Linked DNA regions of Homo sapiens. The protein of the gene in region 4 interacts with the protein of the main gene of each other region in a biochemical or structural test. Each region holds a gene or a part of one and is shown on either strand. Other genes may lie near its edges. The genes, in order: RPS6KB1, EIF4EBP1, AKT1 and MTOR.

Evidence for each region.
Region 1: of the proteins of MTOR (region 4) and RPS6KB1, one has a biochemical effect on the other in vitro, tested with the Homo sapiens proteins (18 studies listed by BioGRID and IntAct, with this or other methods).
Region 2: of the proteins of MTOR (region 4) and EIF4EBP1, one has a biochemical effect on the other in vitro, tested with the Homo sapiens proteins (29 studies listed by BioGRID and IntAct, with this or other methods).
Region 3: of the proteins of MTOR (region 4) and AKT1, one has a biochemical effect on the other in vitro, tested with the Homo sapiens proteins (19 studies listed by BioGRID and IntAct, with this or other methods).

Annotation. Positions count from the first base shown.
Region 1 is NC_000017.11:59,945,105-59,951,091, reverse strand, and holds the end of RPS6KB1 (ribosomal protein S6 kinase beta-1), read right to left. Parts: intron 5,687-5,987; coding exon 5,574-5,686; intron 4,542-5,573; coding exon 4,304-4,541; 3' UTR 3,506-4,303; coding exon of another isoform or gene 3,490-3,505; 3' UTR 518-3,489; downstream 1-517. UniProt on the Homo sapiens protein: Serine/threonine-protein kinase that acts downstream of mTOR signaling in response to growth factors and nutrients to promote cell proliferation, cell growth and cell cycle progression.
Region 2 is NC_000008.11:38,026,680-38,033,556, forward strand, and holds the start of EIF4EBP1 (eukaryotic translation initiation factor 4E-binding protein 1), read left to right. Parts: upstream 1-3,854; 5' UTR 3,855-3,894; coding exon 3,895-4,039; intron 4,040-6,877. UniProt on the Homo sapiens protein: Repressor of translation initiation that regulates EIF4E activity by preventing its assembly into the eIF4F complex: hypophosphorylated form competes with EIF4G1/EIF4G3 and strongly binds to EIF4E, leading to repress translation.
Region 3 is NC_000014.9:104,792,749-104,800,568, reverse strand, and holds the start of AKT1 (RAC-alpha serine/threonine-protein kinase), read left to right. Parts: upstream 1-4,820; 5' UTR 4,821-5,085; intron 5,086-5,361; exon of another isoform or gene 5,362-7,264; 5' UTR 7,265-7,442; intron 7,443-7,820. UniProt on the Homo sapiens protein: AKT1 is one of 3 closely related serine/threonine-protein kinases (AKT1, AKT2 and AKT3) called the AKT kinase, and which regulate many processes including metabolism, proliferation, cell survival, growth and angiogenesis.
Region 4 is NC_000001.11:11,126,540-11,133,572, reverse strand, and holds part of MTOR (serine/threonine-protein kinase mTOR), read left to right. Parts: intron 1-375; coding exon 376-493; intron 494-2,795; coding exon 2,796-3,044; intron 3,045-3,734; coding exon 3,735-3,835; intron 3,836-4,621; coding exon 4,622-4,718; intron 4,719-5,020; coding exon 5,021-5,119; intron 5,120-5,446; coding exon 5,447-5,569; intron 5,570-5,766; coding exon 5,767-5,949; intron 5,950-6,428; coding exon 6,429-6,563; intron 6,564-6,776; coding exon 6,777-6,951; intron 6,952-7,033. UniProt on the Homo sapiens protein: Serine/threonine protein kinase which is a central regulator of cellular metabolism, growth and survival in response to hormones, growth factors, nutrients, energy and stress signals.

The DNA.
Region 1 (5,987 bases), on a different chromosome or scaffold from region 4:
AAACAGGTAATGTAGATTCAGAAACTCATTTACTCTGTGAATTCAGATCATGGCTTCTAAAAGATTGTTTTACCAGTATTGATAGGCTACTATGTTGTATAGCAAGGTAAGATCAGTTTGAGAGCTTCTGTAGAGAAATCCCCTTGGCAAGTGTGGTATAATTACCTCACAGAAAAGAAGTGGTTAATGCAAAATACCCAGCTTACACTAGATATATTGAGACATTAGTTAAAACACATTTGTTCACTACGTTATTTTGTGCATACATATCAAATTATCAAATGTAGCTGACCAAGTGTAGCTGAACAGATTGTTGATTGTTAGCACAAGAAGGTCTTCCTAGAGTTTTTTATGAAGCTAGCTTTCACGTAGATTGTTACATGTATTTTTTTAAGTAAACAATTCATATCTACTATCTGACATAACTTGAAAATCAAAGATGTGTAACATCTAACTTAAAAATCAATACTAAAACTTGTTATATACTTAAATAGCTTCAGTTTCTCAGCAGAACAGCTTTTAACCCATTCCTTACATACATAGTTTATTTATATGACAACTTGAACACATCTGACATGTTAAAATAAATTTAAACCATTTATACACCTGATACGTATACTAATTCCTTCCTATCTTTAAGATAATAAAAAAATAAATCACTTCTATTTATGTTCATTCAAATTTGCATTTAATTTCTATTTACATTCATTCAATCCGAAATCAAATAATACAGTCAACTAAATACAAGATGAAAAGCAGAACAGGTGTTACCCTCATAGCACTCCTAATAAGGCAGCTGAAGAATTTTATTTACTGATAGATGCAAAGCGAACTTGGGATAGGAGAAACAATAGTTTAAAGAGCAAACACAAACATAGATGAACCCATCTTTCAGATGTTATTCCGGATAATCCACTGAGATAATACTTGTGCTATAATGTTAAGAATCACACAAGAAAAAGTACTGTATTAATCAGCAACAGACCACAGGTTATGTGTGACAAATACTTTTGTGATAGTTTGTCCAGCTTGCTAGTGTCTACTCCTATGAAAAAAGGTAGATGTTTGGACATTGATGTTTTTGAGAAATTAACCATTTTCAAAGCCTTAAAATCTATTCTTCATAAATTCAACATTTCTCATGGGAATAATCTTAGATCTAGCCCTTGTAAGCTAGGAACCATATGATTAACTGAATATTCAAAATAGGTCCTATATTAAATATATAATCCAAGGCTCAGTATATTAATACTATCTAAGATGCATCTTGTTTATAATCATTCATTACCTATAGTAAAGAATGTTGAATTTATGGAGTATCATACATGCATCCTCCACCCCTGCCCACAAATTATCTTCTATCTTAAAAAATAGTATGGAAAAATCCTTCTTGAAGGATTCAAATTAGTTAAGACCATAAAGGGGGAAAAAGAACATAATTTTCCTAAAAATCTGGTTCAAAGTTCAATAATTAATACTTTACATTGTTAATCACAGCTGGTTTATAAATCCCAGTTTAGTTATTCTGTAATGCTACAAACCTTATAAAATCAAATTAGTAAACTTCAGTGATTATATTTTAATTAAAAAACAGCATGTATAAAATAAAAAAATATCCTGTAATAGCTGATTTTAAAGAAAATAATCAAGTGATGAAAAAAAAGCACTTAATCTCTTTTATACACTTACCTGGTATAACATAAAGAACCCTCTTAGAAACTCAAGACTAGTAATATCGACATCATATTTTAAACTATGCTTGGATTTTTACAAATAAATATAGATAAGCCATATTGCATAGGTGTGTGCTTTCTGTCTGTGACACTAATGTGACACTTGACATGTTTTCACAGTCATAGTAGGGATATCCATTTATGAAACAAGTTCTCAATAAACTTTCCACAGCATGGGAAATAAATTTCACTTAATAAATGTGAAGTCAGAAAAACTATGTATTTGTGTGGATGGTAGCTGTGCAATTAATGCTTTTTATGCAGAAAAGTTGCAGTGTTTGCCACTATTGCTGGCACTACTAATTATGAAAATGGTTTAACTGGGGTGGTTATAGCCAGCCAATCACAGTGCTCATGTTACTAGCAAATAGGACCTAGGAAGAATATTTTGGTGTATAAGTTTCACTGGAATTTGGTCAGGCAGTCAACACTACAGTTAGTAAACATATTTGAAAACAAGTATCAAGAGTATCACAAGCCATTTACAGTCTGAAATAATGCCTGTACATATCACCATAGCTTTTCGGGTTCTGTTTTTTCAGACATCACAAATTGTCAAAGAACAAGGATCTGCACTTTTTAAGTATAATTTCTGCCCTTAATTATTATTGTAGCTTCTAATTTACCAGCAACAGTCAAAGTTCTCAGTAGGCTGCTGCAATAAGGGAGGAGGGGGAAGAGGGAGTGATTTTTTTTTTAAAGGCTTTCTGTCCAAAGATGAACTTTTATCGATTCTTTCAATTATTGCCACAATTGAAAAGGTGTATGTCCAATCATTTTTCATGGTTCTGTTTTTGCTTACTGTCATAGGATTTCATCCCATCTCATTTGAGTTGCAATTTCAAAAAGCAAAGCCTTGCTCTTTTCTGACTGAATTCAACATGCATAAAGAATTTTATGGCTTGGATCCTATGGCTCAAAAAGGTTTGAAAACATAGCAAGCAGCATCTATTTAAAAAAATCCTAGGGTTGCAAAATATTACAAATTGACTTTGCACACTCAGACTGAAGACATTATAAAAGACAAACAAAAAAGGTGATACAACTCAACTGCAACTGCATGATCATCTATTATACCAGTATGCACTGAAATATATTTTTATAAAGCTCTGCAGATATTAAACCCTTTCACCAGCTAAAGTCATGGAAATGCTCTCTTTAAGGCAGGAAATATTTAAGAAAGGTAAAGTTACCTTTATTTTTATTCTTTTAACCTGTAAATCATTTATGTAGATTTTGTTACAATTTCAAAAACATAGTGTCCTGTTAACATGTTTCCTAAATTAAGCCACTAAGTTTTCTTTACTGTGGAAGACATTCATCAAAAGGCCATCAAATATTTTTACAATCAAAAAATGTAGCCCAAGTATAGGAGAAAAAAAAATAGACCTTTTTTTCTTTTTAAAACTGTTGAGGAAAAAAATATAAGGAAGGTAGACAGCAGAAACAGTAGAAAGAAGTAAAACTGAAAATCTTACCAATTTGCTGTAAAGAGATTAGACAGAGAGTGGGCCACAGCAACACCCTCTTCCCCTGGATATCCCTATCTCCCTCACCTTGCCGACCACAGTATGTATTTTTTATCCTGACTCTCTTCTGTTGTTCTTCAGCCATGGGCTGAAGACATTTGGTGTCTTGAACCAAATACTGGTGTAAGAACAGGTGGCGATTTTTTTTTCCAGTGCAATGCAGGCCCGGGACAATGATGAAATGTAGGACATACAACTTATGCCCATTCCAAGGCTTCCAGTTAAGCTTAGCACATAGCAGTACTGCAAGTAGAAATGATTAAATAGATTCATTTTTTTTTTCTCATATTACAGACAGGTATTGCAGCTGGGTTACTGAAAATAAACCCCAGGTCCACCCCAATCCCTCAAACGAGCCACAGCTGTGGTTAACAATGATTCATTTGCATTTTATTATTTCACCAAGAGAAGAAACAGAAGTTGTCTGGCTTTCTTCACACCAACCAATAATTTCGCATTTTAAAGTTTGGGATGTTTTTCATAATGAGCTGAATCAAAAATCTATTTGAAAAATATATATTTATATAAAAAAAAGATTCAGGTTGTTTGCACGTAAAACATCAATTGGTAAGTTTCTTTTGTCTTTGCTTCCATTTTGCTGGAAAAAGTTTGACCAAGCTTGCATGCTAATTTGTCCTTAGTTGCAAGTATTATAGGCAATTTTGTACTTTGCCTAATGAAAGGATAACCCTTCTTCAACACAATCAGAACTCAACAGTGATTCAGAAGCAACATCCTACCCTTAATACTGTCAGTTTCGAGTCATCAACATGAAAATCCTTGATAAGGTTGAGAAGATGTCGCGAGGAATCAATTAATTGATGTGCCTAAGAGTTCAGCAATACTATTTTGCTTTAAGTTTTTTTTTGCACCATTGATTGATTTTTTAAAATCCACGTTTATTTTTCCTGTGTCTGAAGTGTTCTATGTAATGACATTGACTCTCTGAAACTGTCATTTTGAGTCGTTTCACCTTGCAGGATGCTCACACATCTCCCTCTCCACCTTTTTTGCCTTAAATTCATTAAAAGCATTGCTCTGTCATAGATTCATACGCAGGTGCTCTGGCCGTTTGGAGATCATGGGAAAAGCTTGTTTTTTGTATGGCCCAGAGTTCGGCTGTCGTATTGGAAGTGGTGCCGATGCTTCCCCACTCATTGTCACATCCATCTGCTCTATGCCACTTGTTTCCATTGGGTATTCCACAGGTGTCTGAGGATTTGCTGTGCTGGCCGAAGCACCTCTTCCCCAGAAATCCCCAGGAGAAAATTTGACTGGGCTTTAAGACAAGGAAGAGCTATCATTCATTTGCTTAAGGGTCATCTCAACAAGACATATTTCCTTTACGTTTAAAGGGAGTGGGGTAACATGACATTTATTTTCATTTAATTTTATTTTCACGTGGATTAGCACAAAGGCAAAAATTGAACCATCTCTCCCCCACCTAGATTAACTGCTAGAATTTCCTAACTGGTCTCTTTACCTCTACACCTGACCCCCAAAACCCTCAATGAGATATATATACATTTAAATGCGTATTATATATATCATTTTACTCTCCCCTGCTCAAAACAGCTTTCTATTGCATTTAAAATAAAATACTTTTCCAAACCTCTGCCCTTCTCCTCACTCACCACACACTCCAGGAACACTGATTTCCCTTTCACTTCCAGGAAAAGGGCAACTTTTCTCCTCCCTCAGGGTTTTTGCATTTGCTGTTCTTCTGCCTGCAACATTCTTATACCTCCTATTTTTGTAGGGCTGGCTCTTTCCGTTCACTGCTAGATGTTACTACACCAGGGAGGCCTTTCTCTGATCACTGTGAGTAGAAGCCCCCTTGTTTTTCCTCTGCTCTCTACCAGTACATTCTTTTTTTCCCCTTTTAAATTATAGCACTTTGCACTACTTGTAATTATATTTTTGTATATCCTTTGTCTATTGTGACTTTCCCACTAAATTGTAAGCTTCATCAGGACAGGGACAATTCCTGTATTATAGTACTATATAGATACACACACATAACATGCAGTATGTAGTGCTGGTGCTCTTGGTGCACAATAAATGCTGAGTGAATGGATAAAGAGGACATTTGCCAGTATGGCTGCTTACTTTTGGGAGGGAAGGTAAACCATATAACATCATAGATTAGTCAGACTAGTCCTTTGCAATGTAAGATATAGATGCTGTGCTTATGTCAACCAAAGAGAGTATGACAGTCTTTCATTTATATAACTTGGCATAAACTTCTTAAGCAAACACTCTTGTAGGTTGTTTAAAAACAAAAAAAAGTGAAAATAAGAGTGTGAAATACCTGACAGGTGTTCGTGGGCTGCCAATAAATCTTCGAGGTGATCGGATTTTTGGTTCAAAGGAAAACTTTTCTTTCACACTTTCAAGTACAGATGGAGCCACATATGTAAAACCCTGAAAGACAGTAACAGTGGACTACAGAATGGCATTTTGTCATGTATCTCAAGAGAATGGGGTTGTTCAGTCTGACATACCTACACAATGATGCACACCTAAAACCACCAATGTGTACACTCTCCCACGTCCTCAACCTCATTTTTAGACCCGTTAACTTCTTTCCAGCCATTTCGTGAGGCACACACTTCAAGAAAGCAGAATTCCATTGAGCCTGATATGCTAGCAAACAAAATTCTACCCTACTGACAGGAATAGAAAAAAAAACAGGAAAATTCAGGCTCCATATGAAGATGTTAAA
Region 2 (6,877 bases), on a different chromosome or scaffold from region 4:
TGGTCTCAAACTCCTGGCCTCAAGCCATCCTCTCACCTTGGCTTGCCAAAGTGTGGAAATCATAGGAGTAAGCCACTGCACCCAGCCTTGGCTATACACTGTTAAGTTATAGTGTCCACACCCTATATAGTCTTTAGTGCAGCATTATTATTAATAGGTTAATTTATGGCTACTTGTGACAATAGCAAGCAGTTTCAAGAGATGAATACATAGCTCAAAAGGGGGTAGTGGGACGTGATTGCTGTCTCATTTTAATGTCTAGGCCTGATAATTTAAAAGGATTCCCATTCCTCAGATAAAAGCTGTTTTTTCCATATGAATGAGTTCCTGCTCTAGAAAAAGGTAGAGGGGCCAGTCACAGTGGCTCATGCCTGTAATCCCAAAACTTTAAGAGGCTGAGGAGGGAGGATCACTTGAGGCCAGGAGTTTGAGACCAACCTAGGTAACATAGCAAGATCTCATTTCTACAAAAATTTTTTTTTTTTTGAGATGGAGTCTTGCTGTTGCCCAGGCTAAAGTGTAGTGGCAGGATCTTGGCTCACTGCAACCTATGCCTCCTGGGTTCAAGTGATTCTCCTGTCTCAGCCTCCTGAGTAGCTGGGATTACAGGCACACACCACCACGCCTGGCTAATTTTTGTATTTTTAGTAGAGACAGGGTTTCACCATGTTGGCCAGGTGGTCTCCTGACCTCAGGTGATCTGTCTGCCTCGGCCTCCCAAAGTGCTGGGATTACAGGCATGAGCCACCTCGCCCGGCCAAAAAATTCTTTTCTTTAATTAGCCAAGTGCAGTGGCATGCACCTGTAATCCCAGCCACTGGGGAGGCTGAGGTGGGAGGATGGCTTGAGCCCAGGAGTTGGAAGCTGCACTGAGTTATGATTGTGCCTATAATTAGCCACTGCACTCCAGCCCAGGCAACAGAGTGAAACTCTTTTTTTTTTTGAGATGGAGTCTCGCTCTGTCACCCAGGATGGGTGCAGTGGCACGATCTCAGCCCACTGCAACTTCTGCCTCCCAGTTTGAAGCGATTATCCTGCCTTAGCCTCCCGAGTAGCTGGGACTACAGGCGTCTGCCATCATGCCCGGGTAATTTTTTTTTTTCGTATTTTTAGTAGAGATGGGGTTTCACCGTGTTAGCCAGGATGGTCTCAATCTCCTGACCTCGTGATCTGCCCCCCTCGGCCTACCAAAGTGTTGGGATTACAGGCGTGAGCCACCACACCCGGCCTGAAACTCTCTCTTTTTTGAAACAAGGTCTTACTATGTTGCCCAGGCTGGTCTCTGAACTCCCGGCCTCAAGCAATCCTCTGGCCTTGTAATCCCAGCTAGGGCTGGGATTACAAGTGCACATCGCTGCAACCAGCAAGGCCTGGTCTATTTTTATCTTATATTATTTATTTATTTTTTGAGCCCTGGCTGGAGTGCAGTGGTGCAATCTTGGCTCATGGCAACCTCCACCTCTGGGGCTCAGGTCATCTTCCTACCTCATCCTTGAAAGTAGCTGGGACCACAGGTGTGAGCCACAACACTGGGCTAATTTTTAAATTTTTTTGTAGAGACAGAGTTTCACCATGTTGCCCAGGCTTGTCTCAAACTCCTGAGCCCAAGCAGTCTGCTCACCTCGGTCTCCAAATGTGCTGGTATTACAGGTGTGATCCACAGCACCTGGATGAAATTAATTTTTTTTTTTTTTTTTTTTTGAGACGGAGTCTCACTCTGTCACCCAGGCTGGAGTGCAGTGGCAGATCTCTACTCACTACAACCTCTGCCTCCCAGGTTCAAGCAATTCTCCACCTCAGCCTCCCGAGTAGCTGGGATTACAGGCACCCGCCACTGTGCCCGGTCTGTTGTTTTTGTTTGTTTGTTTGTTTGTTTTGTTTTTTTGTATTTTTAGTAGAGACAGGGTTTCACCATCTTGGCCAGGCTGGTCTTGAACTCCTGACCTCATGATCCACCCGCCTAGGCCTCCCAAAGTGGTGGGATTACAGGCGTGAGCCACTGCACCCAGCCGAAATTTATTTTTTTTTCTTTTGAGACAGAGTCTTGCTCTGACGCCAGGCTGGAGTGCAGTGGCATGATTTCAGCTCACTGCAACCTCTGCCTCCCAGGTTCAAGCAATTCTCCTGCCTCAGCCTCCCGAGTAGCTGGGACTACAGGCATGCGCCACCATGCCCAGCTAATTTTTTTTATATTTTTAGTAGAGACAGGGTTTCACCATGTTGTCCAGGATGGTCTCGATCTCTTGACCTCATGATCCGCCTGCCTCGGCCTCCCAACGTGTTGGGATTACAGGCGTGAGCCACTGCGCCTGGCCCAAAATTAATTTTTATAATGTATTTTTCTTAACCCAGTATACTCAAAATATTATCAGTTCAACATACAATCAATATAGAAACAAATTATTCAGGTATTTTACATGATTTTCTTCACACTAAGTCTTTGAAATATGGTGTGTATGTTAAACTTGTGACAGTTTGGACTGGTCACATTTGGAGTGCTCAATGTGCACCTGTAGCTGGTGGCTACTGTCTTAGCCACTGTAGGCCTAAAGTTTCCCTCAAAAGTGAGACCAAACTCAACAGGTCTCCCTATCTCAGGCCTTGCCCTCCTTGGCCCATTCTGAAACTCCACTGGCTACTAGTTATCCTTCCAAAAAACAACTCAAATCATGTCATCCCCCTGCTTAAAAGATCTCTGATATCTCCTGCCCTTCTAAGACAAAGTCCAAGCACTTTGGCATAATTTGAAAAACTCAACGACCTGACCCCAATTTCCTTTTTAAAAAATTATTATATATTTTTTTAGAGATAGGGTCTCTGTCACAAAGGGTGGAGTGCAGTGGTGTGATCACAGCTCACTGGAGCCTCAAACCCCTGGGCTCAAGCATCCTCCAGCCTCAGCTTCCTGAGTAGCTGGGATTACAGGTGCACCACCCAATTTCCCTTTTAAACTGCCCTCCCCTCTTCACCCTCTTCCCCACAATATGTGCCCATAATGCTAAGAACTTCTCAAACCCAACAAGCTTTTCCATCCTCGGTCCTTCTTGCATTTTTCTCTCTCCCCTTGAACATCCATCCATCCATCCATCCATCCATCCATCCATCCATCCATCCAAGGAGTACCTACTAAACCTCAGGTGGACGTTGGACTCAATTCAGGGGCTATCGGGAAACCTCTTCGACACTCTTACTCCTCTCCAACGCCCTTCCCCACCACCCACCTCTGCGCCCCCAGCTCTAAATTTAGCTCCCAGGACGCCGCTGGTTGGTTCACTCCTCCTCCCACACCCTCTCTAAAGGCCGGGAACGGAATTGTTAGCCCCTCCACCCCCACCCCCATCAAGGTCAAGAAATTGAAGCGGGGCGGGGGGCGGTGAGCATAACTACTCAATCCCCATTTTCTCATCTGAGGAACTAAGGCACGAAACAGGGAGTGCCGAAGGGTACACCAGGCCTGATGTCCTAATGCAGAAACCGGGCCTTCCTGCAGTGGGCCGGGTCAGCTCGGATCTCCGCGCGGTCCTGAGTCGCCGCCCCCAACCCAGCCAAGGATTAATTTAGGCGAGCTATCCCGCCCGCCATCCCCATATCCGTCCCTGCCAGCGTGGCGGGGAGGGACCCCGGACGGAGGGGCAGTCGCTGCGGGGCGGCGCCAGCGCCCGTGCGGAAGAGCCCGTGAGCAGACGGGAGTGGGTCGGGGGGCGGCGGGGGATCCCACGTGGAAGCAGCGTCCTGGAGCTGGGTGGGGCTGCGGCGCGGACTACAAATCCCAGGGGCGTGGGGCGGGAGAGGCGGAAGGGGCGTCCTGGGGCGGGGCGGCACGGGGCGAGGCGGAGCGAGGCTGGAGGCGCGGGAGGGCAGCGAGAGGTTCGCGGGTGCAGCGCACAGGAGACCATGTCCGGGGGCAGCAGCTGCAGCCAGACCCCAAGCCGGGCCATCCCCGCCACTCGCCGGGTGGTGCTCGGCGACGGCGTGCAGCTCCCGCCCGGGGACTACAGCACGACCCCCGGCGGCACGCTCTTCAGCACCACCCCGGGAGGTAGGCGCGGGCTTGGCGACGCCGCTTGCCGGCTCCTGGGCGGGCGGGAGGATCGGGAATCGCGGATTGGACCGGGTGTCCAGGCTCAAGGGCGCCGTGATTGGAAAGAACGGAAAAGGGGCATCGGAGAGACAGCGAGGGTCATGGAAGTGGCCGCCCGCTTCCCCTCTGAGTGCGTCTTCCAGACCCGAGTTACAAACTGCCCCGTTTGTTTCCTCTTTCTGTTAGGTGTCAGACAGCTGACACCTAACAAACACGCACGCCTCCAGGACAGCCACATGCCGAGCTGTGCTGCCCCTTGTGGGTGTTGGGGGCGCTCCCGAAGCGGGAGAGGGCGGAGTTAGGGTGGCCCACGATCCAGGAGAGGCCTGGCCTGGTGTTTTTATGGGATGGGTATTATCTGTTGGGATAAACGATTCCTGCAGGGCCCTTTTTCCTTCCCGAAGCACGCCGAGTTTTGTGTTGGACTCGCGCGCTCTGACTGAGGTTCGGATCTGGGGGTGCTTGCCTGCTCCAGCAGCGCCTCCCGGGCACCTGTGGCACGTTCCCCATTTACGCGAGTGGGATCTCCGCGGGGGGGACCCTGGCGCCACGGCCAGGGCTGTGCAGAAAAACACGTTCTTCTGTCCGGGGAGAGGAGGAGGCACCGTGTGACCTCCCTGGGAGAGGATGAGGAAGAGGAAGCTGAGCTGGCACGGGTGGGGGGGCCAGCCTCGGGCTGCCCTCAGGAACCTGGCATTCCCTCCCAGCCCCGGAGCCCCAGCGCACAGACGCTGATGAAACCTACGCGCCTGTTTGCATGATGAAATAAATCCTCGTGGCTCTCTCCTCCCCTCTCATTGTCGCACTGCCCCCACCCCTTTTTGCTCCTCTCCCTTCATTCTCCTCCACGCTGCTTTCCATACTACTAGAAAACGCGACAGATCCTGGCGCTTGGCTAGGTGGCGGGCGGGGGCCACATGCTTATTTTCTCAGGCAGCTGTCCCACCAGCAGCGAGCGCGGCCAGATCCGAGGTCCTCTGCTGTTTGATCCAAAACATACACTGTTAGAACGGTTAGGGATCTTGTCCAGCCCTGCCGTCTTATTCTACAGAGCCCGGCATTGAGGCCCCAGAGCTTGAACACGTGTCTGTTGCCCATTGTCACACCGTTTTCCCAGATTGGACAAGAAATAGCAACCAGGCAGAGAAGGGAGAAATGCTTCCTTTTCTATTAGAAATGAGCCAAGGAAAAGCTCGCAGGGGCTCTTGTTGCCATTCCCGACTCATCCTCTTTCCCTTGCTGGGTCTTTTGTAGTCCATGCTGTTCTCCTTTGTCTCTGTCACAATGGTCTACCAGGACAATTCCTGACAATTTTGGAGTTCTTTCAAATGAGGGTGTAAGTGTCTGCTGGATTTGTTCAGGGTGGGCCCTGAGGCCGGCCTGAAGGCGCAGGTAGCCCTTTTTTGCACTCTTTATTGCTGGATTGTTGGGTCAAATTGGAAGCCAGGATACTGTTTATAGGCACTTCTGGCCCGGGTACCAAGGTTCACACCTGTAATGCCAGCATTTTGGGGAGCCAAGGCAGGAGAATTGCTTGAGGCCAGGAGTTCAAGACCAGCCTGGGCAACATAGTGAGACTCCATCTCTACAAAGAAACAAACAAAACAACAACAAAATGTTGTCCTAGCTACTACAGAGGCTGAGGCCAGAGGATCGCTTGAGCCCAGGAGTTGGAGGCTGTAGTGAGCTATGATTGACCACTGCACTCCAGCCTGGGTGACAGAGCGAGACCCTATCTCTAAAATAAATAATAAATATAAAATATAGGAACTTCAAATCCACTTTTCACTTTGGGTTGGGAAGTGGGGAGTGGGCAGGGGGCTGACAGACCACAGCAAATCCCCTTCCCTTTGAAGGTCTTTAGCAGTAGGGGGAGTGGGGAAGGGACTTCTGCATCAGGGCATAGCATATGTTTCTGAGATCACTGGAAGAAGCTAGCAGTGCCAGGAGCCTAAAGCCAGCTCACTGTTTGGTCGTCCAGTGGAGCAGGTACAGCTCACAGTCCCTAAGCCAGGGAAACCTGGCTGACTTCCACTAAAGTCAAGCAAGCCTGGTCGGCCTCGATTAGCCAAGGTGTGGACTCTTCCTCCAAAGCCCACCTCAGCCCACCTCTGCCAGGGCAGAGAAGCCAAAATGGTCACATTGCAGCCAAAATGGTCACACCCTTTTGCTCCAGAGCAGAATACTGCCTCTCAGTCTTCCAGGTGCTTGAGGATAACTGGGGGCTTCATTTAAGTGCATATTCTGATTCTGTAGGTGGGGGTGGGAACTAGATTCAGCATTTCTTTCTTTTCTTTCTTTCTTTTTTTTTTTTTTTTTTTTGAGACAGGGTCTCACTCTATCACCCAGGCTGGAGTGCAGTGGCGCAATCTCAGCTCACAGCAACCTCCACCTCCTGGGTTCAAGCAATCCTCCCACCCCAGCCTCCCCAATAACTGGGACAACAGGCATGCACCACCCATGCCCAGCTGATTTTTGTATTTTTTGGTAGAGACGGGGGTTTCACCATGTTGACCAGGCTGGTCTCAAACTCCTGGCCTCAAGTGATCTGCCTGCCTCGGCCTTCCAGAATGCTGGGATTACAGGCGTGAGTCACCATGCCCGGCCTAGATTCAGCATTTCTAACTAGCTCTGACTGATTGGTGCACATACCACACTCTGAGTACTCAGGAATTAGTGAAACATAACTTCCCTCACCTTTCAGATCTCTGGAGTCTAGCAAAAAAAAAAAAAAGATGGCTCCATCCAGGTAAACTTTGATCTCTAAATCGTGGTGTGGAGAGCCAGGCTTTTGAT
Region 3 (7,820 bases), on a different chromosome or scaffold from region 4:
GGCGCGCTCCAACTTGGCTGGCCCAGCGCCGCCCGCCGCTCGCCCCGCCCCAGAGAGAGCGAAACTCGGGGCGGGGGCCGGAGGGGGCGGGCCGAGCGACTTCCCGGAGCGGCGGAACCGCTGAGGTCACCCTCGCCCCCCCTTCCCTGTCCGCCCCACCCGGCCGGGCCCCGCGCGCAGCCAGCAGGGGCGCTGGGGTGTGAGGGGGGTTTAGGGCACTGCGCGGGGGCAGGGGGTCTCTCGCGATACTTGGCGCTTTGGCCTGGGTCCCCCACCTCCCAACCTTTCCCGGCATGGGGTCCTTACTGCGCCAGTCTGCAAAAGGAACCCTTCCGAGGGTCCGCTTGTATCCCAGCCCGCGTTGGGCAGTCACCCGAGGGTAAACCCGGGACCCTGGCCTCCCGCCACCTCGCAGGGCGCCGGCCTTGGGATGGCGTAGGGGTTGCGTGGATTGGGGGTCGTTAATTTTGCAAAGATGACACCTCCTTCTTCCTTGAAAGCCTCTTTTTGAATTTAATTCAGCTGGGACCCTCTTCCAAACATTCAAGCAGGATGTCGATCCTAGAGTCCAGAACGGGGACTTCCACCCTCTCCACAGACCCCAGCCCAGCGTCTATGGGGGACCCAGCGCAGAGAGGCACGGAAAACGGGCACCTCCCAGCAGACATGGTGGCACGGGGGGACAAACGCCATAACAGAGACAGTCGGAAGCCCTCCAGAGCCCAGGGTAGGCAGGAACGTGTTCAAAGAGGAGGAGACTCCGGACAGGGGCTGGCATGGGAGTGGGGGTAGGGAGGAGTGGGGGAAAGTGTTCTAGGGCAAAGAAGCATTGAGAAGATGTGAGGGGGACGCCTGGTTGTGGGAGAGGGAATCGCCAGAGAAGTAGAGAGTGTGTTTGGCGGGGTTAGGGTCCCTCCCAGGCAGATGGAGCCTTTTCCCAGGGGCACAACCTGGGCTGCCCTTGACTGAGCAGGTTTGAAGGTACTCTAGACCACCGGATCATCTTCACAACAGTCCCATTAACTAGACGCTCTTATTTTCATACCTTTTTGGTGAGAGAGTTTAGGTAAGGTACCCAGAGCCATGTATCAGGCAGTAAGTCACTGAACCACGATTTGAATTCAGCCGGTCTCATTCTTCTCTGCCTTGGAGTCCGGGAAATGGAGAATGTAGTGGAGGAGTCACCCCAGTCAAGGCCAAGCAGTGGGGTGGGGGTGGTGCTGGAAGAGGGGCTGGATCACAAAGGACAGGACCCGGCCAGGTATGTGTGTGCAGGAGGAGTGGAGCCCACAGTGGGATCTGAAGTCTGGGAAGGAAGGCCTCGTTGTTATACTAAAATATCATTCCTTGTTTCACCGGATGGACTGCATCTTTATTTCCTAAACCTGGCAACTGCAGCTTGGACCCCTGGAATGACACTGCACTTACAGCCACTGAGACTAGCTTAGGGACGGCAGAGGCCTGGCTCCCACTGCCGCCGGCCATCCACCCTAAGGACCCCTTCCTGAGGAAGGTCAACTCCCCTCTCTCCACGCATTTAAATAATCATCTGCCTTGCCCCAGCCACCAGCAGGAATAGCTGAATTCAAGTAAGTTAAGGGTGAACTCAGATGTGACTGCTCCCTTCCTGCCCTGCCTGGATCACAGCCCTGCCCCGGCCCCTCCCAACCTTGAGCACGACCAAACCTTTAACCTCTTTGAACCTCAGTAATCCTCATCTGCAAAATGGGAGTCAGAGTGCATCCCGGGGTCTTCGTGAACATTAACGACAGGGCCTGGCACTCAGCAAGCTCTCAGGCTCTGGAATGTTCTTCCCCAAAGAACCCTTCACTGGTTTCTCTTCATCCCTGTCTCTGCTGAAAGTCCACTCCTTAGTCAGGGTGGCCATTCCTGCCCACCTTCGCTAAGTTCCCTCGCAGTCCCTTCTGCTGCATACCCTCCTTTCCAGCCCATTCCGGGTGTCCTGTGATTGTGGGATATTCCAGCACCTTCTGAAAGGGAAGGGGCTGTTTGGTCACTTGGTGCTTAAAAGTTGGCAGGACGCAAGTGGGTGTTCAGTAAATGTTTGTTGAGTGAATGTGTGACGGTTGCTTCTGTGAGTGATTACGATGGTCCCACCATCCCTAATCCTGACTCCTCTGTGGCAACATTCCAGCCCTGCCTGCCCACACCCCCAGCCCCTGAACCTTCAGAGCAAGTAGGGGTGGCCTGCCACACTGGGGCTCTGGGCAACAGGCTGACAGCTCCCCACTGCAGGCTGGGAGCAAGCACCCTAGCCTGCCCTGCCTGGCTGGCGGGACAGAGAGAGCCTGGACACTTAATGGGGGTTGTGGTACACAGGGAGGGTCAGGATGCTGCCTTCAGGAGCCTAGGGTAGGACCTGGAAGGAGGGCCCAGCTAGGAATGGGCTAGATGAAGGGGAGGGGACAGTGGGAGAGAAGCTCCTTATCCCTCTCAGGTCGGGATGTCTGGGTTCAAGTCCCTCCTGCCCCACACCGATCAGGGAAGGGGGGCTGTTCCAGGCAGAGACCGCCCAGAGTTGGTGCTGGGATCCTGGCCAGCCTGTAGTCCTCAGAGCCCCTGTGACTGGCTGGGTCTCAAGTGCAGGAATGACAGGACACCGTCACACAGCCACTGTCGCGGCGGTGGTGGTTCAGGCAGAACCTCTGCAGACTCAGGCGGCCATCTGGCCTGGGAGCTGCCCTGAGGCCCCGCCCTGCAGCTGCTGCTGGGACCTACACAGCCCAGGGCCCTCGAGTCCTGCCCCCGGCCAGCAGCTGCAGAAGGTGACAGGGCAGGAGGCCCCTGAGCTCTGGGAGGAGGCAGCCGTCGGGCCCTTCCCTGGTGCAGCAGTTTTTGTCGGAAACATCTGGCCACAGAGCACCTCAGCAGTCCCAGCAGCAGCCGTGGGGCTGGGTTCTCTCCTGACCATTCTGTCTGGGGTGGGAGGGGGTGTTCTTGAAGAGAGGACTCTGCTTTCCCTCTGGGACGCTGGAGGAGAGGGAGATGGCCCTGCCCACTGGGAGATCCCCGTCTTGGGGGAGGGCAGTTCATGCCAAGGTGAAGACAGGACTGGAGTGTGGGGCCCACAGTGGGTTGCAGGCACCAGCAGATGCCAGGGCACCAGGCTGGGAAGACTGGGAGGCCTCCTTGGAGACAGCCAGTGCAAAATAAGCAAGAGGTCCAACCACTTCAAGAACAGCCCGCAATGTCACTGCCTCTTCCATGAGAGGGTGCCCTGCTCCCTCCCACATCCCCAAGCCTCGGCCACTTGCTGGCCTTGTCTCATGGCCCTCTTACCCTCTGCTTCCTCCCTGAATTCCTTCCTCCATCCTTGCATGGCAGAGCCCAGGATGGTGGACAGATACCAGGAACTCTTCCTCGGGGAGCAGTGGGCAGGTGGGACAGTCCCAGAGGGAGCCCCAGGTGGCTCATGGTGCAGGTTTGCTGGGTGAGAGACAGACACCAGACGCCCAGGCTCTGGGGGCAACCCTTGTGTCAGGTATCCCACCCAAGCGGCGCAGACCACTGGGCCTCTGACTTGGCCCCCTGGAGGTGGGCCCTTCCTGGGGTTACAAAGTCTGAGCTGGGAGGGAGCAGAGGTGCTCAGGCGAGAGGCAGGAATGGGGAGTCCCCTGTCTGAGGAGCGAGTGCCCTCATGCAGGGGGAGAGAGTCCTTCTCTTGGTCAGCCCCAAGAGGCAGGGATGAAGCCCGAGTTTTGGCTGCAGACTCTGTCCTGAGCACTGGGCCGAACCTGCTGCCTCTGTCTGCATCTCCTCCCACCCCCTCCCCTGCTGCCAGCTGAACTCACTCTGGCTGAAAATAAAAATGCTCCCCCAACCCCAATACTTAGCAGCCTCAGGAAGGTAACTCACAAGAGTCTGTCTTTCACAAAAGGGTTATTATCAACTGTGGGCCTCTGGAATGGGGGAGGGGCAGTTGTCGGAGGAACTTCTGGCTAGGAAGGGGTCGGGGTGGCAGTCACCTGCACTCTCCTGTGAGTGTCCAGGAGAAAGGGGTCTGTGTCCCACTTACTCATTCCATACCCGGGCCATCTGCCTCCCAGTGGACTTCGGACTGGGTGTCCGGGCTGACCAAGTCCACCCAGCAGGGAGGGCTCTGGGCTGTCAGCTGTCACAGCCCACCCTAGACACCGCTCCTCCTCTGTCTGGTGTCTGCTCCCAGCTCAAGGTGGGAGCCAGGCAAGGTGTGCCCCTCTTCTCCCACTCCCCAGCAAAGTCCCCCTTTTGTGAGTGTAGCTGCCAGTACCTAGGTGAATGGTTGACTCCCCTCGGAGCCTTCCTGCTCCTTGGAGGCCCACCTCCAACTGACCTCCTGTCCTGGCATCCTCCCGCACTTCCCCCAGAGGCACAAGGTCTTGGGATTGGGCCTTTTAGGTCACTCTTGGCCGCCCCCTCCACGCCCCCCAGAGTGGGGCAGCCTGAAAGTCAACCTAAGCCACCCCCGCCCCGCGCGCGGAGGCAGAAGTCCGGGATTCGTCCCTGACCTGTCTCGGGCCCCTTCTGCTAGGGTCACGGCAGAGCGAGCCCAGAAGCGCCGGGTCACTTTACAGACGGGGAAACTGAGGCCAGAGAGGGCGTGGCCCCGGGACGGGCTGGCTGGTGGCCGGGCTCCGTTAGCGGCCCAGCCCAGGCCCCAGGTCGTCGGGAGCTGCCCCTCAGCCCGGCCGCGCGCTCCCCGAGCGCGCTCCGCCCTCGCCGCCGGCCGCGCGGTGGGGACGCCCCGGGCGGCGGAGGCGGATGTGGGCGGGCGGCTCCGGGCGCGGGGCGGGCGCGGGGCGGGGAGAGGGCGGGCCGGCGGCGGCGGCAGGACCGAGCGCGGCAGGCGGCTGGCCCAGCGCACGCAGCGCGGCCCGAAGACGGGAGCAGGCGGCCGAGCACCGAGCGCTGGGCACCGGGCACCGAGCGGCGGCGGCACGCGAGGCCCGGCCCCGAGCAGCGCCCCCGCCCGCCGCGGCCTCCAGCCCGGCCCCGCCCAGCGCCGGCCCGCGGGGATGCGGAGCGGCGGGCGCCGGAGGCCGCGGCCCGGCTAGGCCCGCGCTCGCGCCCGGACGCGGCGGCCCGGTGAGTCCCCGCCCGCCGTGGCCGCCCGGGCCTGGATTTCCTCCCCGCGGGCCGGGCCGCTTTGTTCGCGGCCGGTCGGGCCGGGGCGCGAGCCGCGGCGCCGCCAGAATGGAGGAGCGGGAGCAGGAAGTGGCCGAGCGGGCCTGGGCGGGGAGGGCGCGGGGCGCGCGGGCCCGGCCAAGGGAGGGCGGCCCCACGCCGGGCGCCGGGGGTGCAGGCTGCCGGCCCCAGCCTCCCTCATGACCTTGGGGAGGCCGCTCCGCCGGGCGAGGCCGGGACCCGAGAGAAGGGACGCCGCCGGGCCTGGAGCTGGGGCTCGGGGTGCCCCTGCGGGCCGTGGGGCTCCCCGGGCGCTGGGCCAGCGAGGCAGCCGGCGGAGGTGCCCCGGGGTTGGAGAAAGACTCGCCGCGGCCGGCCTTCAAGTTTGTGGGAGGGCCCCGGAAGGAGACTTCGTTTCCCACGGACGAAAAGTTGTACGTGGTGGCGGGGTACCCAGGCTAGCCACAAAGGACTGTGACCCTCCTGGGCCCCGGAACTGCTTCCTGTCTTGGGTGGGCCCTGGAGGTCCTGCCCGCCCATCCCAGAGGCCAAGGCTTGGAGGGCAGCTGGGGCTTGCCCCTTAGATTGAGTATCCTGGGGCGCTAGCGAGCTTGGTCCTGTCGGGACGGCCTCTGAGTGCTGCCTTGGTCAGCGGGTGAGCTTGGGCCCCTGCTCTGCAGCCAGAGGCCGCCCCACATTCACTCCTGGGTCTCTCGGCCTTGCTCCAGGTGGCCACTTCTTGACTGCTTTGAGTCCCTCATCCGAGCGAAGGGCGGACGGAGTCCGTTGGTGGGGGTCCGGTTGCCTCTCCCGGGAGCTGTGTAGACTTCTCATACACCAGGGTTCTGGAGGCAGATGGAGGAGCCCTTTCGAAAACAGAGTATTTTTTTTTAAGTTGTGACTTAATAATAGTAGCAAGAATATGTGCTTATGGTAAAGGCAGGCGGCAGGTACGGAGGCTGTGGGAAGTCGGGGTCCCTCCGCCCCCACAGGCAGCCCTGTGCTGGCCTGGTGTATACGTTTCTGTGCAGACGTACACCACCCTGTGTGAGCACAGATGTATTTTTACACATGGCTCTGGACAGCTGTCTGACTCTGTCAGCAGCAGGCCTTGGAGGGGCTCAGGCCCGTGTGGGGGTGGGGGGACATCCAGAGGTCTTTGAGTCCAGCCCTCTGCCTCCAGGCCACGCCCACTCAGTGTCGTCAGAGCCCCCTGTGCCTGAGGCGTGCGCGGCTCGGAGCCCTGCCCTCGGAGTCCTGCGGTGCCTTCCTCGAGTCTGGCCTGCTTTCCATCCTGCTAAGTACTTGGGGCATTTCCCTCTTTGGGTAAGGTGTGGTCTTCCCTGTCCTGGCATTAGACACAAGGCAGTGGGCCTTCCTGCCATTCTAAGTGTAGCTTAAGACAATCAGTGCAAAGCAACCCTTTGTGGGTGTCCAGCCCTTGCCTCGGGAGGCCAGAAAGGTGGCCTGGGGGGAGAGCGTCTAAGCTGGCTGTGGAAAGACCCATGTTGGGATCCATTCCACAGAGGTCGTCAGGGGTCTCTGCCTGGCCTGGAGGTCCCAGAGAGGACCCTCCTCCCCTCAGGAAGGCCCATCTGGAAGGGTAGCAGAGGACTGCTCACAGGAAGAGCATGCGAAGTGCTCTTTCTGGGGATGCCTGTAGTTGGTGATGTGGGAACTGGGTTTTGAGGGATGCCTAGGAGTTCATCCATCAGAGGGGAAATGAGGAAGCCATGCAGGATCAATGGATAAAGTGTGCTCAGGTGAGGGTTGGCTGGTGGGCCGCTGCAGGGCGGGGGCCTGTCCAGTGCTCCCCCACTTACTTGCTGCCTCCCGACTGCTGTAATTATGGGTCTGTAACCACCCTGGACTGGGTGCTCCTCACTGACGGACTTGTCTGAACCTCTCTTTGTCTCCAGCGCCCAGCACTGGGCCTGGCAAAACCTGAGACGCCCGGTACATGTTGGCCAAATGAATGAACCAGATTCAGACCGGCAGGGGCGCTGTGGTTTAGGAGGGGCCTGGGGTTTCTCCCAGGAGGTTTTTGGGCTTGCGCTGGAGGGCTCTGGACTCCCGTTTGCGCCAGTGGCCTGCATCCTGGTCCTGTCTTCCTCATGTTTGAATTTCTTTGCTTTCCTAGTCTGGGGAGCAGGGAGGAGCCCTGTGCCCTGTCCCAGGATCCATGGGTAGGAACACCATGGACAGGGAGAGCAAACGGGGCCATCTGTCACCAGGGGCTTAGGGAAGGCCGAGCCAGCCTGGGTCAAAGAAGTCAAAGGGGCTGCCTGGAGGAGGCAGCCTGTCAGCTGGTGCATCAGGTTAGGGAGGCTGGGAAGGCCTTTTGGGGATGGGGGTGATTTGTCCAACGGCTGGGGGAGGTGGGAATGGGGAGGTGAGCAAGGCAGCAGCTCTCAGGGCCTGGCTGTTGCGGGTGGTGGTGGCAGGGGCTGGAGGCTCTAAGCCTAGAATAAGGAGAGGCCCAGGTCCAGGGAACTGTGTTCAATTACATGGATTTGACACTTGGCAGCCCTGAGTGTTTTGGGGAGAGGGAAGGCAGGCGGGCAGATGGGGGTCAGAGAGCTTAGAGGGATGGCAGCCCACCTGGGAAGGCAGGTGCGGGTGGAGCCCCCAGGCACGTGCAGTGGGTCTCTGGCTCACCCAGGGCGAGGAGCTGCCCTTAGCCAGGCGTGGCCTCA
Region 4 (7,033 bases):
AAAGAATGGAGGCAAAGGGAAAAGTAAGGGAGAAGCCATATAGCAATCAATAAAGAAGTAACTCTCAACTGTCACCCACAAAAAATTGGGTTTGGGGTAGGTAAGTCCATACAGACCTATCTGTACCAGGTACATGGTTTATGCTGTCATTGAGAGACAAAGGTCAAGATGGAAAGATGGTATCTTAAAAATGTATTCCAAAAGCCCATCTCCTTTCTTGCGTGTGGCTGAAAATTTTGCTAGCTCCTTCACATTGCCTCTTGAGAATAAGAGGAAATACCAGAAGGGCTTCAGTGTCCCCTAACAATTTGTGGTCCTCTTAGGAGGGCTGTTTTGAGGAGGGAATGTCATGGGGGCTTGTTTCTCTGCTTCCAGATGCTTCCTGAAACTTGGAGAGTGGCAGCTGAATCTACAGGGCATCAATGAGAGCACAATCCCCAAAGTGCTGCAGTACTACAGCGCCGCCACAGAGCACGACCGCAGCTGGTACAAGGTGATCAGAAGCAGGCCACCTGTGAGACCCAGCACCCTGGCTGGCTCGTGTCCTCCTGTGTGCTCGTGGTTACAGCTGAGCTTCTGCGGAGCTAGGCTGATGCTGTGAACTTACTCCTTGAGTCCCTGGAGCCTATCTATAAGAGGCCCAGGGAGCCTGCATTTCCCCCTACAAGTTTAATTAATACAGAAAGATTATTGGAGAAATACTTGTTACACCATTATTATGTGTATGTGGTGTTGGGGATTGCTGCTGTCTTACAGACTCTGAGCTGCTTGTTTTCCTGGGAGCATCTGGACACATGGTTAATCTCTGGAGTGACATCTTCCCTTAGGTCATCTGTTCTTGTTCAGCGTTTTTCTGATTTGCATCCTTGCCTGCTCCTCAGCTAAGAACTTAACTTTCTTTGTTTTTATTGGAAAGATCCAAGTAACATCCTGTTATGTTACAGGAAACTTTTGAAAGAGATAAACAGAATTAGAAAATATATAAAAGATGTGATTGATGGAGGGGTGATTTTTGGAAGTGTATATCTTTGGTGAGAATATACTTTCTTATTTCTTTTTGAGAGGCTTTCTGGTAACTACTTGGTGTGGCAGATGTCATTGACATCTTTCCAGTATTTCCTTGGCTTGCCAATACTTTGTGAATTAATCTCTCTGAAATCTAAACTTGTATCTGAGGACTGCAGAAGCACTTATAATACAGATCTTACCTTTGTTTAGGCATGCTTCATTCTGGTTTGAAAAATGTCCATTTTGTCATAAGAGTAATACTCTCTCTAGGACAGCTTGCATGTCCAAAGCTGGAAAATACATCCGGTAAACACTATTAACTGGAAGCTTATTAATCAGAGTTGTATTCTAACCAGAGTTACTTTCATTCATTAAGCTTTTAGGAAGTAAGCAAATCACAAGAAAAAAGTTGGTTTCAGGAACTTTAGTTTTAGTTTTTAAAAGCTTTTCCTAATGTGGGTCCCTTTTGTTTTATGATGTATTCTACCATCAACGTCATGGCCCTGTATGCATGCCAGGACTGTTTGTCTTGTTCACCTTGACCCCAGGTCATTGCCAGGCACATAGCAGATACACAAGAGATATTCAGTGAATAAATGAAGGTATGGGAAAACTGAAACCTGGGTCATTGTAGAATTCTTACTCATCAAGTAAAGGTTAGTTGTGATCAATCTATTCTCCTTAGTTGAGAAAACGGATACACCTGTGTTCAAGGTTTTTGGCAAGGCATACAAACGAATTTCCCAATTATTCAGAAAGTTCAGCTATTAATGGGTCACGTAGTGTCCTACTATCACTGCAAAGTTACCATGCCTGGAAGCAAACTCTGCCTCACACTCGCTAAACCAAGTGGTGGTACGCTGTAGAGTCATTGCCGCTCAGAACCCCAGAGAGAGTAGTATTCCTTTATCCAAATAAGCACCAGCGGTTCTTCCTTCAAGCATTGAGCACTGGTTCTCTGTCAGGCCGTGGGCTAGGTGTTGGGACCAGGCAGATGGGTGAGATTCTTTCTCTGTCAGGCTCCTATGCTCTTCATGTCTTCCTTTGTCCACTATCTGGTGACCTGTCAAAACTTTGCTCCCTTGAAATATTGTGATGACTGCTGCTTGCCCCCACTTCTGCTTGCCATTTCTGCTCTCCCCTAAATGTACACTTTATACCCAGTGCAGCTCTGCTTTCTGGGTGAAAGTGCCAGCCCTGTGCCTGCTCCAGGCGTGCTTTGCTGGCCTCGCTCTCACTCCTCGCCTGCATGTATCCCCTGCACGGTCACATTCATGGGCTTGTTTCCCGTGAACCAATCTGCACATCTCTGGCCTTATTCTTCCCCCTTGCCAAGTAGTCCCCACCGCTGCCTTCTTGTTTCCCTCCTTGCCCTTCTGCAGCTCTCTTCCAGACCTACCCCAAATCCCTCTTCTTGACAAAGCTTTCCAAATGCCTGTCCTTGCTACTCCCATTGTGCCTTGCAGAGTACCTAGGTCTTCAGGTTTGTGCGTGAGCTCCCCTAGGAGGCCGGGAGATCCCTTGAGGCAAGAGCTCTCTCCTGCTCCTCTTGCTGTGCCCTTCTCGCAGTGCACTCATAGTACGTTATATAGTTAGTGCTCCACAAAGTGAGTGGATCATGTTGAATTTAGTAAAACAGCCATTTCTGAGTGTCTCCTTGAAGTGTTTGCTTTATGGACACACAGAACAGGCAGGAGCAGCTGTTCCTCAGCATCGACCTTGCGCTCCTCTGAGCCCTGCTGTTGGTCACAGCTCCAGTGTCTGTCCTTGCCTTTCTCCCCAACCAGGCCTGGCATGCGTGGGCAGTGATGAACTTCGAAGCTGTGCTACACTACAAACATCAGAACCAAGCCCGCGATGAGAAGAAGAAACTGCGTCATGCCAGCGGGGCCAACATCACCAACGCCACCACTGCCGCCACCACGGCCGCCACTGCCACCACCACTGCCAGCACCGAGGGCAGCAACAGTGAGAGCGAGGCCGAGAGCACCGAGAACAGCCCCACCCCATCGCCGCTGCAGAAGAAGGTCACTGAGGTACCCTTCCCTTCTTCCTTATTAACAACCAACCAAGGTGCCAGGCTCTCTGAGAAATGGAATCGTTGTTAAGCTTAAAAGGAACCTGAGGCTGTATCTGAAGTGCCAGATGGAGCTGGAAAATACTGCCTATCTACCATCCAGCACTGCCTGAGATAGGGCTTTGTGTGTGAATATTTGTGTTTGGGGAGCTGACGCAGCCTCTATGCTGAAGAGCAAGCTCCTTGTCAAGCTTCCCTGTGGACGAGCTCATTCTCTACGTGCTGCACCTGTGTGTGGGTGGCTGTACACAGCTGCGGGTCCACTCTGAGGATGGGGCTTGGGAGGTCCATCCTCTGCCTTTTTCTCTCCACTTCCACTTCTTCCCCTTCCCCTTGGGCTGTCAGTTCAGAATGCGCCAGGGCCGCTGGCAGGCCCAGAGATCCGGGTGTTCAGAGCCTCAGCTCCACCTCCTCCCTCCATCCTGTTCAGGAAGCCACTGTCAGCCCAAGATAATAACAGTTATGATACAGTTGCCATTTATTGAGTCTTTGCTATGTGCCAGGTAATGATTAAAGATTTTTCATGCATTAACCGATTTAATTGTTATAACCACCCTTTGAAGTAGGTACAGTTAGTATGCTCTTATGCCCATTTTACAGATGAGAAAGCAGAGGCAAGAGTGTCGCTAACACGTGTGTGTTCCAACAGGATCTGTCCAAAACCCTCCTGATGTACACGGTGCCTGCCGTCCAGGGCTTCTTCCGTTCCATCTCCTTGTCACGAGGCAACAACCTCCAGGATACACTCAGGTATCAGAGAAGGGAAGGATGCAACTCTGGTAGGCCATGTTAATGGCAAGACCTAGAAGTCACACGTAAAAGTCCTCTTTCCCTTCCTGACCCTGATCAGGACACCCAAGATCGATGTATGTGCCTTTTTTCTGCACTGCATTTAAGGAGTAACAGCTGACTGGGCCCCACCTGTGTGGGTGAAACCTACAGAGAGTGAGGAGGAGAAGTGGAGTGAGAACTCTCCATGTGTGGTTTATTATGGAGGGATTATTAACCCATCTGTTAATCACAATATTTCTTTTTTTCTGACCACCCTGTTGCCTATTGAAGTCACAGTATTTCTAAAATCCCTCAGCAACTTGGAGAGGTCTAAACAAATGACTCAAATCAGTTAACCCAGAGGGTAAAGGTGACAAGGTCCACATCCTCCTTCATTTGAGGATCTCCAGCCAGCTAAGAGCCAGGTGTCCCTGTTGCCTCTGCCGTACAGCGACTCTTACATGTGCAGACTTGTGGCTTTCTAAAGGTTATCCTGGCTCGTCTGTTTGATGTTTGCATACATGCCATGGTGACCCCTCGGTGACCTGGGATGAAATGCTCATTTGCTCAGGGTGACTCTTACGGTGTTCAGTCAAGAGCACTGCCACCCATCACAGACACCTGCTCCCATGGGAGGCCAAACACATTTGAGAGTTACTGGTTGGAGTCCCTGCCAGCTCTCTTCTCAGGAGCCTTAGAGATGAAAAACAGGCAGGCAAAAACTGGGAAACTAAATTTTCTGTGACTTTCTCATTTCTTTTTCAGAGTTCTCACCTTATGGTTTGATTATGGTCACTGGCCAGATGTCAATGAGGCCTTAGTGGAGGGGGTGAAAGCCATCCAGATTGATACCTGGCTACAGGTGAGGATACTTGGTTACAGGTGAAGGTGGCTCCAAGTCTCTCTTCTGTGTGTCTCCTCTTACAAGCATGCTGTGTTCAGTGTCACAAGGCAGTGTGTGTTAATACAGTGCTAAGGAAGTAGGGCTCGGTCCCAGTGTCAAGTGTCCATATTTTCTTTATTTTCTTTTAGAAACTAAAGGGAAGGGAATGAACCATTTCAGAGCATCAACCGAAACAAGTTAAAAGAATTGATCTTTGCCTAGAAGAATAACTAGTTGTTTCAAGTCTCATATGCTACATACTGTGTCTTTTTGAATACCAGGTTATACCTCAGCTCATTGCAAGAATTGATACGCCCAGACCCTTGGTGGGACGTCTCATTCACCAGCTTCTCACAGACATTGGTCGGTACCACCCCCAGGTATGTGGAGACTCTGGGCAGTTTCTCATCTAACCACTGGTTTGGTGGTCAGCCTTTCCAAAAGCTGCCCTGGCGACACAAGCGCAGGAACTGGGAGCCATGTGTTCCATCCTGGCCCAGGAGGGTCTGTCCAGCCAGCCGTCCCAGAGGGCCCGGGAGCCTTGCTAAAAAGAAAGCGTTCCCTCGAAGACTGAGCCCCTTCCTGGTAGTCTCAAGCAGATGTTAATGTCACACTCACCACTTGTTTTGTTATTCTCCTTAAAATTCATACCAGCTCTTCCCCAACCCACATTTCCTTTATAGATGTTTCTTCTGTTTTTCCCTCAGGCCCTCATCTACCCACTGACAGTGGCTTCTAAGTCTACCACGACAGCCCGGCACAATGCAGCCAACAAGATTCTGAAGAACATGTGTGAGCACAGCAACACCCTGGTCCAGCAGGCCATGATGGTGGGTCGGAGCCACTGTGGGGCTTCATAGACCCTGGTCCCTTAGCTGGTGGGCGCAAGTGGGATTGTTTTTCTTCCTCGCATTGGTGCTGTGCACTTCCTCTGACTGCTGGAAATAGTACCTCCTGTGTCTCCAAAACAGACCTTTCTGAGGTTAGCTGATTCTTGATGCTTCTCTCCTTCTTCTCTTGGCTTCAGGTGAGCGAGGAGCTGATCCGAGTGGCCATCCTCTGGCATGAGATGTGGCATGAAGGCCTGGAAGAGGCATCTCGTTTGTACTTTGGGGAAAGGAACGTGAAAGGCATGTTTGAGGTGCTGGAGCCCTTGCATGCTATGATGGAACGGGGCCCCCAGACTCTGAAGGAAACATCCTTTAATCAGGTATGGGGTAAAAAACACGAAAGGACATAACCCTGTAGAAATATTCTGCCACTAAAAAAAAATGAAATGAGAAAAGTTTTTATAGAATGAAAGGACGTGACCCAAGGCCTTTGTCAGATTTCTTTTCCTCTGGCCTTTCCACTGACTTTAATAAAACGAGCTCTGATGGAGGTCACAGAGCATAAAACATCAGAAATTAGTTACAGGGACCCTTCTGAATTTTAACTGGAAAAGCCCAAGATTTCTCAAGAGGTCATCTCGTCTCTCCTCTCACCCTTCCTTCCCTATAAGCCATGCTGCTGGTTTGGAAGCTCCAGGGTTGGAGGCCTGCACCTATGCTCTTGCTTTCTCCAGCCCCCTGCCAGTGTTTTCAGGCCACAGCGGGCTCCTGAGGAATATCTGCAGTCAGCCTGGGGATTTTGCCTCCTGGGTTGGTTGAGACTTTGATAACTTGAAAACGTGCCTGCTTTCTCTCTCAGGCCTATGGTCGAGATTTAATGGAGGCCCAAGAGTGGTGCAGGAAGTACATGAAATCAGGGAATGTCAAGGACCTCACCCAAGCCTGGGACCTCTATTATCATGTGTTCCGACGAATCTCAAAGCAGCTGCCTCAGGTAGGATCTTCAGGCTCCTGGCAGGGTTAACTGTCATTATAGTCCTTTCTGTTTTACTGTCTATGAATGTTCTAACACTCATTCCAAAGCATCTGGTTTTACTTCTGCTTTGGGACAAGTAATTGTTATTAGCAATCCACTGAAAAATACTTAAATTGCGTTTAAATTCTTCCCTGGAGGCAGAACACTAAATCCTTTGGTAATTATTTACAGCTCACATCCTTAGAGCTGCAATATGTTTCCCCAAAACTTCTGATGTGCCGGGACCTTGAATTGGCTGTGCCAGGAACATATGACCCCAACCAGCCAATCATTCGCATTCAGTCCATAGCACCGTCTTTGCAAGTCATCACATCCAAGCAGAGGCCCCGGAAATTGACACTTATGGGTAAGGACCATTGTGCACTTCTGTCACCCACTTCTCCCTCCTACACTGGCTGAGACCCCTTCCCTCTTCTGAAATTACTGCT